3 linked regions of the Homo sapiens genome follow. The protein of the gene in region 1 interacts with the protein of each later gene in a pairwise test. Each region holds a gene or a part of one and is shown in the gene's direction. Other genes may lie near its edges.

Region 1 (3,752 bases):
TCGGACCTAGAAAGCTTGACCTAAATGTGATTCTGAGTATTGAAAATTTTTTTATTAACAAATACACTTCAAAAAAGTTCTTTAACGGTTCTAGAAGTCATTTGGGGTAATTAATAATAAGCATCTACTCCAGTGTTTTCAGAACTTTTTGAAACACCTCTCTGATTTTGTCAGAGTCAGACCAGGATTCCCTGAGAATATTAAGTCTTGTTACTTAATATTCCATCCCATTTTTGTTCCAGAGCTGCATTACGCCACATGGGCACCAATGTTTTCCATCCAAATGTTCCAATCCATTTGTTCTCATTTGCAATCCAAATGTTCTCATTTGGATTGGCTTTTGGTTGCATCTAAAAATCAAATACAAGTACAGTGTCCCAGGACAGATCTTTGTCACTTAGAGTAGTCCATTGACACAGATGGATAAGTAGTCCATCTGTGTCATTTAGAGTAGTCCATTGAGATAAGAAGTTACAGAAGTGTCTAGATGAGGATATCATTGGAGTAAGCCCATCTTCTGTGTTCCTTCTGGCTGAACCTGTGGCTGAAGTTGCCCTAAAAGTAGGGGCAGAGGAATTCCTGTAAGGGACTGCCCCGAACCTAGTTGGGGTTCCAGAACACTAAATCTCAGGGTAATCAGTCAAAAGCATTTAGTGCTGCAGCAGTCCTCTCAGCAGACAGCAGGAAAAGATGTGTCCAAGGTGAGGGAGTTGATTTGAGTGTTGAAGGAATTTGGTTCAGGGCCAGGGATAGTTTCTGTGTGTTTAGCAACAGGGGTAATTTCTCAGTGTTTCAAGCAATAGCCTAAACAACATTGTCAGCGCCTGGGAATGTTCAAGGCAGGCCTTGGCTTGGGTCAGAGCCTCCAGGGGAATACATGCGGCTGGCCACATCACAGAACATCTCAGTTGGACACAGAAAGAAAGCAAGGGGACTGGGGACCCTAAATCCTGTGAGGGAAAATTCTAAGAGGAAAGGGTCAAGCTTCATTTCAGCGCCCTGCCTCTCGGTTGTTGACTCCTATCGCTTTCTGTTCCATGAGCGTTTTCTTTGCGTGCGCTATCTCTGACTCTTAACATCCGCCCCCATACACAGCCTTGGGGAACATTCTGATCATTTTACCTGCCATGGTTTAGGCGTAGACAAATTAGGTTGACACAATTTCTTTTTAAGGCTTTCAACCTTACTTGAAAACCAAGAGAAAAAGTAAAGTGTAGAAATAGTAAAAATAGAAATGAATTACCTTTAACATGGGTAATTAGAGTCTAGCTACAAATTAATTTGCCTAACTTAGCAAGCTGGATGCTTCTGGTGTCTTTTTTGACTTACATTATGCCTGGCTTTAATGTCAGATTAATAGATTCAGATTTTAGCAACATTAAAAATAGCTGAGCTGCCATTGAATTTCAGCAGGCCAGACAGCATCCTTTGAGTTTTTCCGAGAGTTAGAGAGTCTAATCTGGGAAAGCTGATACCTACTAAGCAGCAGACCTAAGATTCAGGTTTGGCTTTTGTTTCACTTCAGAGCCCTGTTCTTTGATTTCCATGTAACAGTGTTGCTAGTTTTGGTGACAACCTCAGGTGTCTCTAGAACTGTCTTTCTAAGCTTGTCTGTCTGGTTGGCTTTTAAGTGTTCTTTAAACTAATTTTTATTTTATAGAGGAATTTGTGTGAATAATAAAGCAGTCCTCTATCTTTTTTTTCCATTGCCCTAAGACAGTTTTCAGCTCTTTTACCTGTATTTCCTGGTACTTACCTCCATTTTCCAAAACTCTGTATTTGTACTGCACTCTTTTGAGATATCTTTTGGTGTTTTGTTCTGGTAGATGATGGTTCTTAGCTCTTTTGTGTCCTCTTCCTCATTAGCATCCTCCTTTAACACATTACACTTTTGGTAACATAGACCTTTAATGTTTTTATTATGACCAGATAGATATTGATCTTTGTTGCGCCAAGTAGCATGCATTAATATTTTCTTTCTTGTGTAACTCGTTTTTATTTTTTTCTTAAGTTAACTATCTCTAATTGGCTCAGATTTCTTTAAACTTTTTGTCAGTTCCTTGTACATTCTCTGAGTACAATTCATCTGGTTGTCAGACCTCACATACTAGGTGGATCCCTTTTCCCCTTGCTCCAGGATGGACCACTGCCATCCTGAGATTCCCCCACATCCTGTGTTCTCCTCTTTCTTGATTTATTTCCTTATTTTAGAGGCTTACCTCCTAAAAGATTTCTGAAAAAAACAAAACGGGACCTTTTTGAGACTTTGCTTTTAGGATCTTTTCTTTACCCTGGTGTTCTGAAATTGTATAGTGATGTTCCTTGCCTAGAGTTTCTTATTTGTTTTATCCTCTTTCTCCACCTTCTTTCCTCTCCTCCTCCCCTACCCCTCTGCACCTTCTCCACAACCACCTGGATTATGACCCGGTACTTTATTTTTGACTCCCCATGTTATCCATGTCTGTCTTTTTTGTTCTACTTTATGAAGATTTCCTTAATTTTAGCTTTTCATCCTTTACTGATTGCTTTTATTTCTGGTGTCATTAATTTCCAAGAGCTTGTACTTATTTTTTGTCTTTTTAAAAAAAATCCTGTTTACTTTCTTTGCAGTTTTCTGTATTTCATCAGAATGTTTTTTTTTTCATGTTATGTGTTCATTTTTGGCCTCTGTCTTCTATGTTAGAGGCTTCCTTCAAATCTCTGATTTTTTTTTTTTTTTTTTTTTTTTTGCTGTCCATTCACATTGAAGAGTCTTGTACCAAAATTTGATTATGAAAGTCCTTGTTGACATGGCTTGTCAACTGACAGCCGTTAACTGGGTGCTTAAGTAAGCAGCATTTTCTTCAGATGAAGAATTTCTTTAATCTTTTTTCCTGAGGTGAGGTGGGACTACAGGAAGAGAAGCCCGGTTGGCAGCTTTTTAGGCCTCAGAGGAGGAAGGGGGCTGAAGGTCTGTGTTTTGTTTACATCAACTTTCCATTTCATGTGTTTTGCTCCTACCCTTTGCCACTCTAGAGCCTGGTCCCCTAAGTCCAGAGCCTCTGCTAATGTCTCAGGAGACTTCCTTTACTGTCTTCTGTGTTGGTGGATGCAGGGACCTGGAGAGCAGTGCTCCATATTGAAACCTTCAGGACAGCAAGGTCCACAGCTCTTTCCCTTGGTGTCAACCGCTGTCTGCACTAACCTCTCTGTCTTTAATCTCTTAGCTGCTCTCATGCCTTTTAAAAATTTTTCTCCCAAATTAAAAGTGGCTTTAGTTTTTCTGTAGTGAAAACAATCAGTACATGTTTATACATACACTCATGCAGTTTTATGTAAGTAGGACTTTGGTATCTGTTTTTCTGTAACTATACATTATGTATTATCAAGGAGATCTAAGCTATATGCATAATGATTTTTGTATTTAATTAACAAAAAATTTTTTTGTCTTCTGTTTTTGCTGCTGTAATACATAGCATCATTTACCTAACCAGTCCTCTAAAGGGCATTTTGGCTTCCTGTTTTCTTAATATAAACACTATGATGAACATCCTTGTACATACATTTTTGTGTACTTCCCCAATTATGCTTGTCTTGCTAGAATAAACTTCGAGTAGTTGAAGTATTGGGTCAGATAAATTTTTTTTTGTATTTTGTTGAGTATACTCTTTCTGAAGGATACGCCAGTACCCTGAGTACCCGATTTTATATAACCTTCCCAGTATTAGAATTAACACATTTTGAAACATCTTTTTGCCTATTGAACAGTTTAT
Region 2 (3,752 bases), on another chromosome or scaffold:
TCAGAGGCTTTCAGTTTTGGAATAAAACCCATATTTCTTTGCACATAAGATGTTTCACTTTTGTATTTCATCAGCCTTTACTTCTGCCTCACTGGAAACATATTTAGCCAGTTATCTCAAACTACCTGAAGCTTGTTCATTTATATTTTCTTGCCTTTATTCATGTTATTTTTTCCTGGAATGCCTTTCAAACTGACAGCATTCAGAGATCACCTCAGGAATCCTTCCCACATCTAAATTTGGTATTTTCATTGTACCATGTGTGTCTCTATCATATCATAATGTTTAAGGCTTGCTGTAATTGTCTAGTCTGGACTTTTTGAGGGCCTCTTATTTTTCTGTCTCCTACTTAAACAATATTTTTGACACAGCTGCCTGGGTGTGTGTTTAAATTTTTTTTCTATTTAATAATGTTTTTTATTTGTGTTGTAGAATGCCAGAGGACTTGGATCTGAGCTAAAGGACAGTATTCCAGTTACTGAACTTTCAGCAAGTGGACCTTTTGAAAGTCATGATCTTCTTCGGAAAGGGTATATGGGGGAGTTATGACTTTGATTTTGTTATGTTTCTGTGAATTTTCACAATATTCTTTAAGTATTTTGATAGGCTATACATGTGTATTTAGTTGGCAGATGGCAAGTAATATACCTTACATGGGGTGCAGAGGGGAAGAGGCTTAGATATTTTCTGTAGTGGAAGAGGTGTCTCATCAAAGTAGTAGGTTCCCAATTAGAGCATCCTCCTAGGCAGTGGTGCCCATTAGCATGATTTGGTAGGATTCTTTTTATTTATTTTTTTGCTACTGATAACTTAGCCATTTGCCTTCTTGTCTTAACTATTAGGGTAATTCACTTTTCTTTGGGAGGCACTAGAACATAGCAGTTGAGAGATTAAACTCTGGATTCAGTCGGCCTGGGTTTGGATCGTGGCTCTGCTCTTTACTAGATGTGTGCCTTTGGACAAATCACATAATTAATGTCTCAGTGTCCTTATGGATAGAATAGGCCTAATAATAGTCTGTATCTTCTTTTGAGGAATAAATGAGTTAATACCTGAAAAATATTTTAAATGGTACCTGACATTAGAAGCACTCAGTATGTATTGGCTACCATTTTTTTTCTTTTCTAGCTTTAGCATGCAGTTACGCCATGTTTTTGATTTCCTTTTTGTTTCTGTATGTTTAGGTCTCAGTTTCTGGTACTAGACCATACTCTTTGCAGGTCACTTTTCTGCTTAATAAAATAAGGATAACGACCTTTCCCCCATAAACATTTTGTGTTTTGAATTTTTGAATTTTACATCTAATTTTAAAGTATTTACTCTTATTTTTTGTTTATTTATTTATTTTTTGAGATGGCATTTTCCTCTTGTTGCCCAGGCTGGAGTGCAATGGCGCGATCTCCCCTCATCGCAGCCTCCGCCTCCCGGGTTCAAGTGATTCTCCTGCCTCAGCCTCTTGAGTAGCTGGGATTACAGGCATGTGCCACCATGCCCGGCTAATTTTGTATTTTTAGTAGAGACGGGGTTTCTCTGTGTTGGTCAGGCTGGCCTTGAACTCCTGACCTCCAGTGATCCGTACACCTTGGCCTCCCAGAGTGCTGGGATTACAGGTGTGAGCCACTGCGTCTGGCCGTAATTTACTCTTACTATAATAGAATGGCATTCTAATGCTGGTGTCTGAGTACAAATATAATCCCTCATTACAGACTTTCAGTTTTGTAGTAAAAAAATGCAGCATATAGCCTGTGAAATTGGAGATATAATTTGATATTTATAATCAAGTTGATTGGCTAGGCAGTAACTAAGGTCTGAAGATTTTTTTCCCCCCACATGAAATGTTCCTTCTTCTTCCTGATTGGACTGGGGCAGGACCATTTTCAAAACCCACTTCCTGGATAATGTTTTGTAAAAAGACAATATTCAATAAACAATTGTTGCAGGGTTTCTAAGGTTTTTATTAGCTTTAAAATCCTAGTTTGGATAATAAGGTAGTCATCTTTATATAGCTAGAGTGATAAAGACCAGTGGCCTGGTTCTAGTTGTGCCTTACCTAACATACTTTATACATAGTAGGTGTTCAGTAAATGTTAAACCTATTGTTCAACATGTTTATTAAAGATATATTAAATATTGAAAGTGTTAGACCTGAAGGGAATAGGCTTAGTTTATATAGTGCAAGAAGTACCTCATCAGAGTAATAGCAATAAACATACATTCATTAAATTTCTTCTAGATGTGGCACCAGATTTTGGCAAGTTTTCCCTAGTGATTGAAGTCTTGACCACCAATGTCTATAATGGATACATTCTTACATTATTATATATACCTTTTTTTTTCCTTTTGGTGTGTAGGTCTATGAATTTTTAGCACATGTATCAATTCCTATGACTGTCACCACAGTCAAGATACAGAACAGTTTTGTCACCCCAAAAAACTCTCTCATGCCATCCCTTTATAGATATGATTTTGAGCTCTGGGTATTGAGTGATATTTAATCTCCTCTAAATGTTTTTTTTTTAATGTCCTTTCAGTTTTTCTTGTGTGAAAAATGAACTTTTGCCTAGTCATCCCCTTGAATTATCAGAAAAAAATGTAAGTATATTATTATGTCCTTATTTTTATCTTCTAATAGATAAATACTTTTACTAATATTGGTTTCATTTTATTAAAACAATTTTGGTACTGAGGATTTGCCCATGAAGAATATGAGGCGTTATTTTCAAACCCCTTGTAGGATAGACTTAAAAATTACACTGCTCCTCTAAAGCTCCCTTTCTATGCGTTCTTACCTGCCTTTTTAATGTACGTCTCCAAAGGGTGATCCACTTCTCCATTCCTCTCACAGGAATTTTCTCTTTCAATAATGCTGTTTCTTTTATATTTTTCCTGCCATTTTTGCTGTTGACTTCCAAGTTCATATCTCTAGTTTTGACCTCTTTAAGTCCTGCATCTCCGAGTTACTGTAGGACACAGCCACTAGGCACAGTAGGTACTTCGATGAATATGACATCATCCCCATCCTTAAATAACTTAAAATTTAATGAGGAAGACAAGCAGTGGGTAGGAGAAGGCTTCGTAAAATGCTAGAGAAGACCAAGGATGTGACAGCCACCTGTGCTTAGGGCTTTTTTGGAAGGCTTTATAGAAGAGGAGGGACCTTTGAACAGTTTTAGACCAGAAAGTTTACTCCTAAAGAGAGGATAGCATGTATACATGTCCAAAACACAATTTAAAGGATTCTTAAATAAACATTTAGAGGAAGAAGAAAAAGGTTTCTGACTACTTGGGGAAGATGATGCAGTTGTTAGGTAACAGAAAACTGATCTGTATTTTGTTTTTGTTGTTTGTTTGTTTCGCTTTCTAATAAGAGGATAGGTCTGCCTATAAGAAAGAGTAGAACAAATAATGTAATTATGAAATTGAAGTTCAAATTAGATGAGAAAAATAAAAAAATTCCTCATCGATTTAAGTGAATTCAGGTTTCAGGTGCAGAAGTTGACAGCCCAGAGTACACTTATAAGTATGTGAGTATGATTATAAAAGCACAGTTGATCATCTTTGAGAACTAATGGGAGAAATGAAAATTGGTTATAGATGGATACATATTCCACTTTTGTATAAAGGATCTAACTAAAAAATAAGATTGTCTGTGGTAACATTGATCCCTGAAACTGTTTCTTAAGTGGACTATTGAGTGAGCTGTGAGCATTTAATAGGGTAAGCAGTGATCATCAGCATCTGAATGAACTCAG
Region 3 (3,752 bases), on another chromosome or scaffold:
ACATTGCCTAGGACTCAGAAGCAATGGGAAGATACTAATAGCTTCCATTTATTGAGTGCTTCCTTCGTGGGAGGATCCCCACCTCTCCAGTGTAAAACTGATAGGATTTATAGGCGTTGAGTGGGAGCTGGTAGTAAGTGAAAAGAGAAATCAAAGACGATTTCTAGGTTTTTGATGTAAGGAATGACTGATGGTGCCCTTTACTGAAGTGAAGATTGGGGAAAAGATTTGGTGGAGGAAATCACGAGTTTTGTTTTGGCCAGGCCGAGTGTGAGGTGGCTAGTGAATATTCCAAGGAGTGATGCCAAATAGGCAGGTGGATAAAATAGTCTGAAGCTCAGTAGAGACTTGATTTCTGGAGACATAAATTTGAGAGTTACCCACATGATATTTACTTATTGTTGTGGGCCCCAAGACCACTCCCAGGTTTGGTGATTCCCTAGAATGACTCACAGGGCTCATCATGTAGTCATAGTCATGGCAGTGATTCATTACAGCTAAAGGATCCAAAGCAGCAGCAGCAGCAGAGGGTGATGTGCATGCAGTACCCGCAGCAGACTGGAGCGCTCTGGGTATAAGCTTCCGAGTCCTCTCTCAGTGTTATTCCACAAACACGCTTAATTCCTCTAGCACTGAGTTGTGATGTGTATGATGTGTAACCTACCAGGAAAGCTCATTAAAGACTCTGTGCCCAGAGTTTTTATTGGATTGGTCATGTAGACACCCTCTGCCAAAATTCTAAGCTCCCAGAAATAAATCAGGTGTTCATTTTTTTTTTTTTTTTTTTGAGACGGAGTCTCACTCTGTCGCCCAGGCTGGAGTGCAGTGGCTTGGTCTTGGCTCACTGCAAGCTCCGCCTCTCGGGTTCATGCCATTCTCCTGCCTCAGCCTCCCAAGTAGCTGGGACTACAGGCGCCCGCCATGATGCCCGGCTAATTTTTTGTATTTTTTAGTAGAGACGGAGTTTCACCATGTTAGCCAGGATGGTCTTGATCTCCTGACCTTGTGATCTGCCCGCCTTGGCCTCTCAAAGTGCTGGGATTACAGGCGTCAGCCACCGCGCCAGGCTCAGGTGTTCATTAAGAACCGTATTGCTTGCACAAACAATTTAGGCCCAGTAAACCACCCTTACCAGTTAGGAAATGGTAGGGACACTCGGAAATCCCAAGTTCCCAGACCACTTCCCTAAGGGTAGCAGTCTGGCCTTCTGTGTTAACTCCTTTCTGAACCAGCTTTACATGAGGTACTGTTGGAAGTGTAGGGAATACTTAGAATTCCTGCCCTTAGTAGGCCTACCATAGGCCTGCTGTGCATGAGATAAGACAGAGTTGTACAAATTACTGTGGTTGTACTGAAAAAGTGCCATAGAACTGTAGAGGAAGAAAAGGCCCCCAAGGCTGGCTTTGCAGGGACTCAGGTGTCCAGCTGACACGTCAAGCAGCCAATTCTGTTTGTGTGTATCATATACATTTTTCACTCTTAAAGGTCAGTTTTGCTATCTGTATTGAAAAATAAAGTGATTGAATTTGTTATTAATCAGAATTAAAATATGAAGTGTTCAACGTAATATTAAGTTGTGTATGTAATTATTTGCCATCTTCCACTTTATTCATAGATTGTTGGCAAAGATTGTTCAGTCTTTTTTTCCACTTAAAGATTTCTCAGTTTAGATTGGAGTTAGTACAACCTGAAAATATTTCTCTTTCTGTTATAAAACGGCTTTATTACTTTGGTTGTATCTAATTCCAGATGCCAAAGTGACTTCCATTTCGCTGGAGCTACTTCCTTCAAAACCTAATCAGTAGAAAGATTTCTTGAATATTTTATGTATAACTTTGAAACTTATCTAGCAAAACTTTGATTTACCACAATGTTCAAGGAAATATCTGTCCTGGTTAGTTATATTCACTAATTAAACTAGAACCCCCCTTTTGGCCTTTAGTAGTAAAAGCCTTTTGAAAATGTTTTGTGGTTATAACAGGTTTGAGCATCATTTTCCACTGTGCCTGAAACTGTACACAAAACCAGTCTTAGCCTGAATGGAGTCCCAAGTATCTCCAGGAATGGTGGGTGGTGGGTGTGTGTTGTGATACCCACCTACTTTTAAACTAAGTCCTTGATAAGAATTTATTCTCGAGACTGGTTTCTCTTTCTTTTAAGCGAACAGAGAATCTGCAGCAAACAGATTTTATGCTAAAAGTACCAGCTAGTTCATTAACTAAGTTCTGATTAGTTGCAATTTGGTTTTACTAATTATAATGACTTTATTTTTCTAAGCTATACATTTGCTCACATTAGGGACCTCCCATTGCCTGCAGGCCACGTGCTTTAATATGGCATTCAGGGCTCGCTGTAATTGAATTCCACCCTCCTTCCAGATTCTTCTGCAGTTTCCGCACATTCCCCCATATACTTCAGCTACTTGAATTACTCCTTTCCCTTTGCCTTGTTCAATTTTGGCTATTCCATTTGAAGGAGAAGAGATAGCATGAACAAAGGCACATGCACATGAGAGAACAAATTCTGAGTAGCAAATACATACGGGTGGGTGTTGCTGGAATGCAAAGTTCCAGGTAGGGTAGGGAAAGGAGACTAAAAACAGGTCTGAGGGATTGCTGAGTCGAGCCCTAGAGGTCAGGACCCAGGCCTTCTTATTCTTTGTAAACCTTCATTGGTCGAGCTGAGGAGTGCTTAGTTGATTTCTGCCATGACCTTGATACAGTAAGATGATTGTTGAAAGTTAAGTAACTGTATTACTTACCGAAACCCATATACATTTTTCTGGAAAAGATTACAATTTGACAGATATTCATTGTGCTTGTTCAAGGGCATATAGCAATGGGAGAAAATGACAAATCTGCACCCCTGTGGAAATTACATTCAAATGGAAAGCGTGTAAACAAAAAGTAAACTATTGAATATACAGCATACCAGAAAAGTTGTATGGAGAAAAATTGAGTAGGGGCAGGGAGTGTTATTTTCAACGTGGAGATTAGGGAATGACACACTGAAGGTGGTGTAACTAAACATACCCCTGAAGGAGGAGAGGAATTGAGCTGTGTGGCCACATGGGGAATGTGGTTCCAGGCAAAGCAAACTTTTGAAGTGCTAAGGCTCTGAGGCAGTGCTAGGGTAGCTGTTGTTGAGGCAGGAGGTTGGAGGACGGGGGTGGGGAAGAGTGGGTAGGAGATGAGGCCAGGGAAATAACAGCTGGGTTGGGAAAGGCCTTGGAGTCTTTATAAGGACTTTTATTCTGAGGGATACTGGGAAGAAATGTTGGCAATTTTGAACAAAGGAGTGACGTGGTCTGCCTTAGTACAGCAGCTAAAATTGTATTTTGAAAACTCGAGAACAGGTTGTAGGAGGACAAGGGTGGAAGCGAGGAGACCAGTAATGAGGCTACTGTAGTAATGCAGGCGAGAGATGATAGTGCCTTGGGCCAGATTGATAGCAGAGGAAAAGATGAGAAATAACTCATTTCCGGATATATTTTGAAGGTGGAGTAAAAGTGTTTTATCACAAATACCAAGTAATTGGGTCATATTTTTAAGCTTTATAAAATTAGCAGTAGAAATGTTTTTCCTTTTTTTTCCCGAACCCTCACTTCTGACTTTAAAAAGTTTAACAAAAAAAGAATTAATTTTTATGTACTCTGATTGAGTCCTTTAGTCAGTGAAATTTACCACTAATAATTCATAAGTGAGACATTCTGACTGGGCTAGGCTGAAACCTAAGTTCTCCTTGAGTTTATG

The links.
Region 2: the proteins of PSMB1 (region 1) and POMP interact in binary tests that used the Homo sapiens proteins (3 or more experiments, as listed by UniProt).
Region 3: the proteins of PSMB1 (region 1) and RPRD1B interact in binary tests that used the Homo sapiens proteins (3 or more experiments, as listed by UniProt).

The regions. Positions count from the first base shown.
Region 1 is NC_000006.12:170,539,566-170,543,317, reverse strand, and holds part of PSMB1 (proteasome subunit beta type-1), read left to right. Parts: intron 1-3,752. UniProt on the Homo sapiens protein: Non-catalytic component of the 20S core proteasome complex involved in the proteolytic degradation of most intracellular proteins. This complex plays numerous essential roles within the cell by associating with different regulatory particles.
Region 2 is NC_000013.11:28,661,978-28,665,729, forward strand, and holds part of POMP (proteasome maturation protein), read left to right. Parts: intron 1-432; coding exon 433-530; intron 531-2,531; coding exon 2,532-2,592; intron 2,593-3,752. UniProt on the Homo sapiens protein: Molecular chaperone essential for the assembly of standard proteasomes and immunoproteasomes. Degraded after completion of proteasome maturation. Mediates the association of 20S preproteasome with the endoplasmic reticulum.
Region 3 is NC_000020.11:38,043,605-38,047,356, forward strand, and holds part of RPRD1B (regulation of nuclear pre-mRNA domain-containing protein 1B), read left to right. Parts: intron 1-3,752. UniProt on the Homo sapiens protein: Interacts with phosphorylated C-terminal heptapeptide repeat domain (CTD) of the largest RNA polymerase II subunit POLR2A, and participates in dephosphorylation of the CTD by RPAP2. Transcriptional regulator which enhances expression of CCND1.